Homo sapiens: one gene and its partners. The protein of the gene in region 1 interacts with the protein of each later gene in a biochemical or structural test. Each region holds a gene or a part of one and is shown in the gene's direction. Other genes may lie near its edges.

Region 1 (3,723 bases):
ATTACCCATCCTATTTCTACTCTTTATGGACTTAGATTCTCCTTAGCCCCTTCATACCTTCTACTGTTGTTCTCAGGGTAGCCAGTCACTGTATCGATTTAATATTAAGTCTCATTCCAGTAAAAGCAGGGACTTTGGAAAACCTTGGATGCACCTATTCCAGACAGATTCCTGTATTCTTTTTTTTTTTTTTTTTTGAGATAGAGTCTCGTTCTGTCGCCAGGCTGGAGTGCAGTGGCACAATCTTGGCTCACTGCAATCTCCGCCTCCTGGGTTCAAGCGATTCCCCTGCCTCAGCCTCCTGAGTAGCTGGGACTACAGGCACACACCGCCACGCCCGGCTAATTTTTTGGATTTTAGTAGAGACAGCGTTTCACCATGTTGTCCAGGATGGTCTCAGTCTCCTGTCCTCGTGATCCGGCCTCCCAAAGTGCTGGGATTACAGGTGTGAGCCACTGCGCCGGGCCTGATTCCTGTATTCTTTAAAACGGGAAAAAAGACAAGCAGCAGCTCCTCAGGTCACAAGGCCAGGTATATCAAACACTGGCCTCCGAGAATAGATCATGCCACCAAGTGAAAGAAACCTCTTCTTGGTCCTGTTGTGATTTTAGATAAAGTAGTCATGGAAGCTTGGTCATTACTATAGTCTTAATGTTATTTTTTTTAAAAAGGGGATTTAGTTGGGCTGATTTCCTCCCCTAAAGGTCCTCTGTCACCTTATTTAAATTTAAAACTGGTTTTACCAGAAAATAGGTAAACAAACACCACTGGTTGTCTCCAGTCTCTTTTCTTGCTCTTCCTCTCCCTCTTCTTTAAAAATGTGGCTGATGAGAACCTGTTTCCAGGAGCCCTTTAATCACTCTGAAACACACAGACACTGAAAATGTTGAAGCATAAAAATAAACCTTGCGTTACAGGGAGATTGCCTGTGTGCTGTCCACTTCGCTTATAACAGTGAAAGTAGGAGATTAAAAAAAAAAAAAAGTTAAGCCCTGTCTTTAAGATGGTTTTTGTGACACCTGATTCCAGATGTGCTTTTTCACAGCCATAGACTTCCTGCTTTTGCAGAAGGAGGGTTCTAATCTGGGGCTCGTAGCTTGGGGGATTCTTAGTTTGTGAGCTGAGCTTTTTGTTCACTTCTTTTCCAAATGACTCTGCTGGCCTGAAGCTTGGCAGTTGTGAAAGCAATCAGCAAGATGACTGTTTGTCTTCCAGCCAGCAGCAGCAGTCACAGGCAAGCCTGGAGAAAGGTCCAGCTTCCAGAGTTCACCTGCTAGAGTTTTCCATAACACCTGGGGGAGAGGCTACTCCATCTGGGACCTGCCCCACCTCTGGGCCTCAGAAACTATGAGAGAGGGATTGAGAGAAAACTTGCCCCACTTCTGCTGCAGTGGGAAGGGAGGGGGCTGCTGTCAGGCTTCTAGGCAGTGAGCGGCATTGTTTATTCTCTCAGTTCTAGGAAGGGGAGTTTAGAAGTACTGGTGAAGAAAACAAAGTTACAAGATCCTATAAGGAACAGCTGAACTACTCCAAACACTCTCACTGGACCCCCATTGTTGATTCTGGATAAAAATATATATATATATAAAACTCTTTTTTTTTTTGACACAGAGTCTTGCTCTGTCGCCCAGGCTGGAGTGTAGCGATGCGATCTCGGCTCACTGCAACCTCCGCCTCCCGGGTCAAGCGATTCTCCTGCCTCAGCCTCCTGGGAGTAGCTGGGACTACAGGCGCCCACCACCATGCTGGCTAATTTTTGTATTTTTAGTAGAGACGGGGTTTTGCCATATTGGCCAAGCTGGTCTCGATCTCCTGACCTCAGGTGATCTGCTGGATAAATATTTTTTTTTTGCTTTTGGTGTAACTTAGGTAGATTGGATCGGCTAGCTAGCATCTCAGTCCACACTCTGAGCTGTGCAGCAGTGTGCCCTGGTGCTAATTCTCACTCTGTCCTTTGATTCTGGCCAGGGGGTCCTTGGTGGTGCTGCCTTCTGGTCAGGAATGTGGGTGAATGTCAGACCAAATAGTGTCACTTTCGGCTTGGCCCTAGAGATCAGGAAGGAAGTGTTGTTAGAGCAAGGGCTTTGGGAGTCCTTGGAGTTCGTAACCTTTGAATCTGAAAAGTAACTGTACCTAGTAAATTAGAATAATTTCTCTCTGGTCAGGCACCATGGCTCATGCCTGTAGTCCTAGCACTTTGGGAAGCCAAGGCAGGAGGATTGCTTGAGGCCAGGAGTTCAAGACCAGCCTGATCAATAAAGTGAGACTCCATCTCTACAAAAAAATTTTTTTAAATTTAGCTGGGCATGGTGGCACATGCCTGTGGTTGCAGCTACACAGAAGGCTGAGGCAGGAGGATGGCTTGAGCTGGGGAGGTCGAGACTGCATTGAGCTGTGTTTGTGCCACTGCACTTCAGCCTGGGTGACAGAGCAAGACACTATCTCAGAAAAAAAAAATTACTTTTCTCCAATTTATGGACTTCGGAAAGTAGCTAAACAGATGGATATAAGACAGTTGTTGAAACTCGGCCTGCTGCAGATTAAAATAAAGTTTGCACAAGGATAACTTAATCTTTCAGACCAACCAAAGTTTGGGCTGGAGATTTTTCTCAGCATAAATGTCCTAAGCAGAGTTGGTGCCTATGAGGTAGGAAAAGATTGAGACTTTGCTTGCCTAAGAGGTTTGCAGGGTTCGAGCTTTTGGGAGTCAGAACTTCTCAGACTAGATTGTTTCCCCTTTGGACAGAACAACCCAATTCTCAGTGGGCATTTGATCAGGACTAACCCAGGCCTTCATGAACTCTTTCCCATTGAGCACTTAGCCACCTGGCTGGCATTTCTCTTCTCCCAGGAGCTTCCATGAGGTTCCTACTTATGTATTATGTCGACTTGAATGAATATTTTATGTCTAGAGTGCAGCCAAGCCTCAGACTTTGTGGCCCATTATCGACAAATGGGGTAGGGGGTGGGCGCCACCTTTGGCCCCGTGATAGCTTCTCTGCTAAATGGACTCCCCCCAGCAGCACTTTGAAGCCCATTAATGGATTGGAATGAAGTAACCTCAGCAGATGGAAAGGGTGAGGAGGGTGGTCATCTTCCTTCCCTGAGACTGCCTGATGAGGCTTTCCTACAGTAACCAGGACAAGCCCCTATTCCCTCTGCTTGGTTAAGCTGTGGACTGGAGCTACTAGGCCTCTGCTTTGAGAGGAAGTATAGAAAGGATTTGATTCTCTTTTAGCCATGGTGGGGCCGCCAGTTTCCCCACTTTCCCATCAAAGCAAAAATTGAGAAGGATGTGGAAAGGGTGGGTGGAGTTTAAAGCTGGCCCTTCCTCCTTCAGTGGAAGTTCAGCAAAATGACAAACCAGATAGGTGGCTAAATTTCCTTCTCTTGATGGGAGATTCCAGTATTTGTACGTTTTGTGCTTGTAGCTTGGATTCTCCAGGCCTCCTCCCAGCTTTCATCAAACATGAGTGAGTCACTGAAGTGTTGTCTATGCATTTTCTCCCTTCTGTCTCTGCAAAGGGAAGAGTAAGCCTTTACAAACCTGTGGGGGAGGAAGTCACCCTCTTCCCACTGCTGGAGAGCCAGGCTATCCCCAGGTTAACCCTGAAAGTGCTAACTCCTGAGCAGAATGTTACTGCCACCCGCCCCCTTCCTTTTTGTTATAGGCCATTGAAGGTCATTGCTCGTCTTTTTTTTTGAGACAGTCTTGCTCTGGTC
Region 2 (3,500 bases), on another chromosome or scaffold:
CAACCTCTGCTTCCCAGGTTCAAGCAATTCTCGTGCCTCCGCCTCCTGAGTAGCTAGGATTACAGGCAGGTGCCACCACGCCTAGCTAATTTTTGATTTTTTTTTTTTTTTTTTTTTGAGACTGAGTCTCGCTCTGTCACCCAGGCTGGAGTGCAATGGCATGATCTCGGCTCACTGCAAGCTCTACCTCCCAGGTTCACACCATTCTCCTGCTTCAGCCTCCCGAGTAGCTGGGACTACAGGCGCCCACCACCACGCCCGGCTAATTTTTTTGTATTTTTAGTACAGACGGGGTTTCACCATGTTAGCCAGGATGGTCTCTATCTCCTGACTTCGTGATCCACCTGCTTCGGCCTCCCAAAGCGCTGGGATTATTATTTTTAGTGGAGATGGGGTTTCACTGTTGGCCAGGCTGGTCTCAAACTCCTGGCCTCAAGTGATCCACCCACCTCAGCCTCCAAAATGTTGGGATTACAGGTATGAGCCACCACGCCCAGCTGGGAGTTGGCTTTTTTTTTTTTTTTTTTTTTTGAGACGGAGTCTCACTCTGTCGCCCAGGCTGGAGTGCAGTGGCATGATCTTGGCTCACTGCAACCCCTGCCTATCGGGTTCAAGCAATTCTCCCGCCTCAGCCTCCTGAGTAGCTGGGATTACAGGCACACGCCACTACACCTGGCTGATTTTTGTATTTTTAGTAGAGACGGGGTTTCACCATGTTGGTCAGGCTGATCTGGAACTCCTGACTTCGTGATCCGCCTGCCTCGGCCTCCCAAAGTTCTGGGATTACAGGCGTGAGCCACTGCGCCCAGCCAGGAACTGGCTTTTTAAAGGAATTTTGTGTGGACCCTTTTACAAATAACCAATTCTTTTTTTATTTTTTCTGAGACAGAGTCTCGCTGTGTTGCTCAGGCTGAAGTGATTCTCCTGTCTCAGCCTCCTTCACCTCCCAGGTTCAAGTAATTCTCCTGTCTCAGCCTCCCGAGTAGCTGGGATACAGGCACACACCACCATGCCTGGCTAGTTTTTTTGTATTTTTAGTAGAGACAGGGGTTTCACCATGTTGGCCAGGCTGGTCTTGAACTCCTGACCTCAGGTGATCTACCCGCCTCGGCCTCCCAAAATGTTGGCATTACAGGCCACCACACCCGGCAATAACTGATTCTTAATGCACCTGGTTCTTAGGTTTGGATTTGGGGTTTCAAATTCAAATCAAAGTCTCCTGGGGTATAAGGGCCCTTGGAGATCATTTGAACCAAGCTCTAGCTCCTTTGGTCTTGGGGACAGCTCCAATTACTAGAACATGATTTAAATTGAGCCACACAGTCCTTTGCCTGGGGATTTTGCAGCCTGTACTTACTGGAGGCATTTCCGTGTTCGCACAGCAGGCCCTTCTGATCAGCTCTCAGGCCTTGCTGACCTCCTGGGCCAACACTGAGCCATTAGCCCCTGTCAGCTATGTCTTGCTGGTGGCTTTAGTAGGGACATAGGAGGGCCTCTCAGAGGGAAGGAGGGGAGGAGAAATGGTCACTTTGCTTGCTCCTTCCCAGACGGCTGCCCCTGGCTGGTGATCGCAGATTTTGGCTGCTGCCTGGCTGATGAGAGCATCGGCCTGCAGTTGCCCTTCAGCAGCTGGTACGTGGATCGGGGCGGAAACGGCTGTCTGATGGCCCCAGAGGTGAGTCCCGAGTGTGTCATGCGCCATCGGCAGCCCTTCCCCCACATGTCCACTGAATGCAGGAGACTCGATGCCTTGTGATAACCCAACACCTCCATCTTTTCTGACCCATAATTTGGCACAAGTTCCTTCCCTGCCACTTTGCTTTCCTCCGGCGTTCCCTCATGTTCCAGGAGAATGCAAGTCCTGTCACATAAACCAGGTGGTCTAAGCAGACCCCTTCTGGGTCTGAGCCACAGCTCACTCAAGCTCTGGGTTCCTTGGGACAGAGTTCAGATTAGCCCATGGATCAGGTGATGTGCAGGACATGAAAAGGTTAGATGGGCGGGCAGCGTGATGTCTCACCCACTGCTTCTGAGCAGGTGTCCACGGCCCGTCCTGGCCCCAGGGCAGTGATTGACTACAGCAAGGCTGATGCCTGGGCAGTGGGAGCCATCGCCTATGAAATCTTCGGGCTTGTCAATCCCTTCTACGGCCAGGGCAAGGCCCACCTTGAAAGCCGCAGCTACCAAGAGGCTCAGCTACCTGCACTGCCCGAGTCAGTGCCTCCAGACGTGAGACAGTTGGTGAGGGCACTGCTCCAGCGAGAGGCCAGCAAGGTGAGGCTGTCCCCGGCTTCGAGGGGACGGTGTGGGTAGAAACCTCTGTTCTCGTTCCAGAGTGAAGGTCAGGTTTGGGCCAGAGCCACAGTGACAGATCCTCTGTGTTAGGAAGGTAAAGGCTAGTTACAAGAGAACAAAAAACAGATTTTAATGTAGGTAGGAGTAGGAGCACTAGCCACCACAGCATAGTCAGAATCCTAGCAGTTCAACTCCTGTGGCTTTTTTAGTTGCTGAAAAAGTTGTTCAGAGGCCAGACACGGTGGCTTACACCTATAATCACAGCACTTTGGGAGGCTGAGGCGGGTGGATCACTTGGGACCAGGAGTTCCAGTCCAGCCTGGCCAACATGGTAAAACCCCGTCTGTACTAAAAATACAAAAATTAGCTGAGTGTCGTGGCACACGCCTGTAATTCCAGGTACTCGGGAGGCTGAAGCAGGAGAATCGTTTGAACCCTGGAGGCAGAGGTTGCAGTGAGCCAAGATCGCGCCACTGCACTCTGGCCTAGGTGACAGTGCAAGTCTTTGTCTCAAAAAAAAAAAAAAAAAAAAAAGGCTATTCAGAGAGAGAAAAGGAGGCATTTTTGAGAAATGTTTAATGGAGATGTAGCTCATGGAAGCAGCTGAGAACTGATCAGAGAGAGATGGAAAACATCTCCTGAGAGCAGATCTGGACATTGTGAAATTAATATAAAGGAATGCAAAGGCAGACCTATCCGAAGCCATAATTGGAGTGGCAGCTGGCTCAGGGGCAGGCTTAGTGCAAAGAGCTGAGCCATACCTGCACCCCAGCACTGTTCTGCCACTCCGTTAACTGCTCTCTGTACGTGGCCTGCTATCTTGGTGCGCAGTGAAGGTTAGAACAACAGCTGCAACCAGTTATGAAATGATAGAGGAGACTACTTACCTGGTTCAAGGGACCAGATAGCTGTGCACAAGAGGCACTAGGCTTTCCACCCAGGGGGAAAGGCTATTTCAACAATGCATGCTGCCCCATGCAGAGGTGTACACATGGAAAAGCTTGGAGCACGGGCAGGGGACAGGCAGTATTTGTCACCTGAGTGAAGGGCATCAGTAGGAGATAGGGTAGAGGAAGAATTGGGTTGGGACCAGAGAAGGGAAGACCCTCACTAACAAAGCAGGCTTTGGGTTGAGACTGTGTTAACAGATGTTCTAGCTACAGCTTCCCTTCCTGTTGCAGAGACCATCTGCCCGAGTAGCCGCA
Region 3 (3,723 bases), on another chromosome or scaffold:
GAAAAATAGGCCAAGCATGGTGGCTCACGCCTATAATCCCAGCACTTTGGGAGGCCGAGGCGGGCGGATCACAAGGTCAGGAGATTGAGACCATCCTGGCCAACATGGTGAAACCCCGTCTCTACTAAAAATACAAAAATTAGCTCAGCATGGTGGCACATGCCTGTAGTCCCAGCTACTTGGGAGGATGAGGCAGGAGAATCGCTTGAACCCGGGAGGCAGAGGTTGCAGTGAGCCAAGATCGTGCCACTGTACTCCAGCCTGGCGACAGAGCAACACTTTGTCTCAAAAAAAAAATAACATATATATATATAATAAATATGTATATATTATATATACCTTATATTAATATATAAGGCAGGTATCATTTTCCCTACTTGACAGTTGAAGCAACAGAAAAACTACAGCAGGGTTACTTGACTTGTTTAAATGTGTAGATTTGGGGGTGGGCGCAGTGGCTGGTGCCTGTAATCCCAGCACTTCGGGAGGCTGAGGTGGGAGGATTGCTGGAGCCTGCCCAGGAGTTCAAGACCAGCCTGGGCAACATGGCAAAACCCCATCTCTACCAAAAATACAAAAATTAGCCAGGCATGGTGGTGTGTGCCTGTGGTCCCAGCTATTTGGGAGACTGAGGTGGGAGGATTGCTGGAGCCTGCTGGGAAGGCGAGGCTGTAGTGAGCTATGATCATGCCACTGTACTCCAGCCTGGGCAATAGAGCAAGACCCTATCTCAAAAAAATAATAATAATTTATGTGGGCCAGGCGCGGTGGCTCACACTTGTAATCCCAGCATTTTGGGAGGCTGAGGCGGGTGGATCACCTGAGGTCAGGAGTTCGAGACCAGCCTGGCCAACATGGTGAAACCCCGTCTCTACTAAAAATACAAAAATTAGCCGGGCATGGTGGTGGGTGCCTGTAATCCTAGCTACTCTGGAGGCTGAGGTAGGAGAATCACTTGAACTCGGGAGGCCAAGGCTTCAGTGAGCCAAGATCGCGCCATTGCACTCTAGCCTAGGTGACAGAGCGAGACTCTATCTCGAAATAATAATAATAATTTATGTGAAAGCACTTTGGAAACATTAAAGCAGCATCCCCAGCCTTTTTGTGGAAGATAGTTTTTCCACAGATGGTGGGCGAGGGGATGGTTTTGTGATGGAACTCTACCACCTCAGATCATCAGGCATTAGATTCTCATAGGGAGTGGGCAACCTAGATCCCTCGCATGGGCAGTTCACAATAGGGTTCATGCTCCAATGAGAATCAAATGCCGCTGCTGATCTGACAGGACATGGAGCACAGGCCTTAATGCTCGCTTGTTTCCTGCTCACCTCCTGCTGTACGACCCGGTTCCTGATAGGCCACAGTCTGGTACTGGTCCATCTGGGGATTTGGGGACCTCTGCATTAAAGCATCATCCTGTACACATAATGTATTATGGATCTATGCATTTTGCTTTTTTTTTGAGTCAGAGTCTTGCTCTGTCGCCTAGGCTGGAGTGCAGTGGCGCGATCTTGGCTCACTGCAACCTCCGCCTCCTGGGTTCAAGCAATTCTCCCTGCCTCAGCCTCCTGAGTAGCTGGGATTACAGGCATCTGCCACCATACCCGGCTAATTTTTATATTTTTAGTAGAGATGGGGTTTCGCCATGTTGGCCAGGCTCATCTCCGACTCCTGACCTCAGGTGATCCACCCGCCTCGGCCTCCCAAAGTGCTGGGATCACAGGCGTGAGCCATCGCAACCTGGATCTATGCATTTTGTAGTCACAGATTTGGAATCATTATTACTGGTAGTTATGTGCACTGAATAAAAGAATCTTAAATCTCCAACAACTCCTCTACTTTTCCTCTTGTCTTTTTTTTTTTTTTTTTTAAGACGGAGTCTTGCTGTGTCGCCCAGGCTGGAGTGCGGTGGCGCGGTCTCGGCTCACTGCAAGCTGCAGCTCCTAGGTTCACGCCATTCTCCTGCCTCAGCCTCCCGAGTAGCTGGGACTACAGGCGCCTGCCACCTCGCCCAGCTAATTTTTTGTATTTTTAGTAGAGACGGGGTTTCACCGTGTTAGCCAGGACGGTCTTGATCTCCTGACCTCGTGATCCACCCGCCTTGGCCTCCCTAAGAGCTGGGATTACAGGCGTGAGCCACCACGCCCGGCCTCTCTTGTCCTTTTCTTTCCCCCTCCCAGCTATGTTCAAATCTACTGGACCCCGTGTGTGTGCTTCCTTAGCTGGTGAGCTCCCTCCTTAGAAGGTAGTCTTATTTGCCTAGCACTGAAAACTGTAGTGCTTAATGGAGTTGTCTCATCCTCCCCAACCAACTGCCAGATCCATCTGTCCAGTCTCCTTGCCAAGTGGAGGTAGTTCTCCTGACTCTCCTTTCTCTTCCTTGTTCCTATTACTAGAGTACTCCTGATTGTGACATCACATTCATCCCCTGGGCGATGGAGCTTGTCACTGGGAAGGAATACTCAGTCGGAGAATAGCCAACAAGATGGGTTACTGGGAGAATCTCTTCAGTGGCACTGAGTGGAGGCATCAGGGGGTTGGAGCCTTGTGAACAGGGAACCTGCCCCCCAACACTTGGAAGGTAAAGAGCTTTGATTCAGAATCCCATTCCAGGCCTCAACCCTCTTCTCTGTCGCTCGGGATTCCTTCTGCCCTTGAAAGTCCAGTTCTTAAAACTTCTTTCTGCAGAAAGCTTTCTGTGATTAATCTGTACCATTTGTTCTTTTTTGTATATTTACAACTTACATAAATTATTGACTTTTACTTGTTAATAATTTGCTTAATACGTTTATGTGTTTTTATGTGTTTTTTTTCCTATGTACTCATTGGGCTCAAGCCTACACCTTAGTTTGAGGACAAGGATTATGTGTTTCTTCTTTTTTTTTTTTGAGACAGAGTCTTGCTCTGTCGCCTAGGCTGGAGTGCAGTGGCATGATCTCAGCTCACTGCAACCTTCACCTCCTGGGTTCAAGCAGTTCTCCTGCCTCACCCTCCCAAGTAGCTAGGATTACAGGTGCCCACCACCATGCCCAGCTAATTTTTGTATTTTTAGTAGAGATGGGGTTTCACCATGTTGGCCAGGCTGGTCTTGAACTCCTGACCTCAGGTGATCCACCCACCTCGGCCTCCCAAAGTGCTAGGATTACAGGCGTGAGCCACTGCGCCCAGCCAGTTGTTTACTGACCTCTTCTTTGGGTTTGACCTTTGGGAGCCCAAAGAAGGGGCATGGCGCCATTGCCGCTGTTTGAGTCCTTGCTCTTTTGGACCTCTCTTTTTTTTTTTTTTTTTTTTTGAGACAGAGTCGTGCTCTGTCACTGGGCTAGAATACAGTGGTGCAATCTCGGCTCACTGCAACCTCCGCCTCCTGGGTTCAAGCGATTCTCCTGCCTCAGCCTCCCGAGTAGCTGGGACTACAGGTGCGCACCACCACGCCTGGCTAATTTTTGTATTTTTAGTAGAGACGGGGTTTCGCCATGTTGGCCAGGATGGTGTTGATCTCTTGACCTCATGATCCGTCTGCCTCAGCCTCCCAAAGTGCTGGGATTACAGGCATGAGCCACCATGCCCGGCCCTCTCTTCTCTTCTTTATCCCCATCACCACCACCACCTAAGTTCAGACTCTTACCGTCACTCTCCTGACTTAGATGTTCTTCCGGTCTCCAGTTTCTCCCCTGTTAACATACTGATTCTAAAATGGAACTATTATCACATTGTTTTTTAAGT

What was found.
Region 2: of the proteins of MARK2 (region 1) and PINK1, one has a biochemical effect on the other in vitro, tested with the Homo sapiens proteins (one study listed by BioGRID).
Region 3: of the proteins of MARK2 (region 1) and RNF41, one has a biochemical effect on the other in vitro, tested with the Homo sapiens proteins (one study listed by BioGRID).

What each region holds. Positions count from the first base shown.
Region 1 is NC_000011.10:63,842,039-63,845,761, forward strand, and holds part of MARK2 (serine/threonine-protein kinase MARK2), read left to right. Parts: intron 1-3,723. UniProt on the Homo sapiens protein: Serine/threonine-protein kinase. Involved in cell polarity and microtubule dynamics regulation. Phosphorylates CRTC2/TORC2, DCX, HDAC7, KIF13B, MAP2, MAP4 and RAB11FIP2. Phosphorylates the microtubule-associated protein MAPT/TAU.
Region 2 is NC_000001.11:20,646,958-20,650,457, forward strand, and holds part of PINK1 (serine/threonine-protein kinase PINK1, mitochondrial precursor), read left to right. Parts: intron 1-1,357; exon of another isoform or gene 1,358-1,547; coding exon 1,548-1,675; exon of another isoform or gene 1,676-2,037; coding exon 2,038-2,274; exon of another isoform or gene 2,275-3,476; coding exon 3,477-3,500. UniProt on the Homo sapiens protein: Serine/threonine-protein kinase which acts as a sensor of mitochondrial damage and protects against mitochondrial dysfunction during cellular stress.
Region 3 is NC_000012.12:56,215,287-56,219,009, reverse strand, and holds part of RNF41 (E3 ubiquitin-protein ligase NRDP1), read left to right. Parts: intron 1-2,396; 5' UTR 2,397-2,581; intron 2,582-3,723. UniProt on the Homo sapiens protein: Acts as E3 ubiquitin-protein ligase and regulates the degradation of target proteins. Polyubiquitinates MYD88. Negatively regulates MYD88-dependent production of pro-inflammatory cytokines.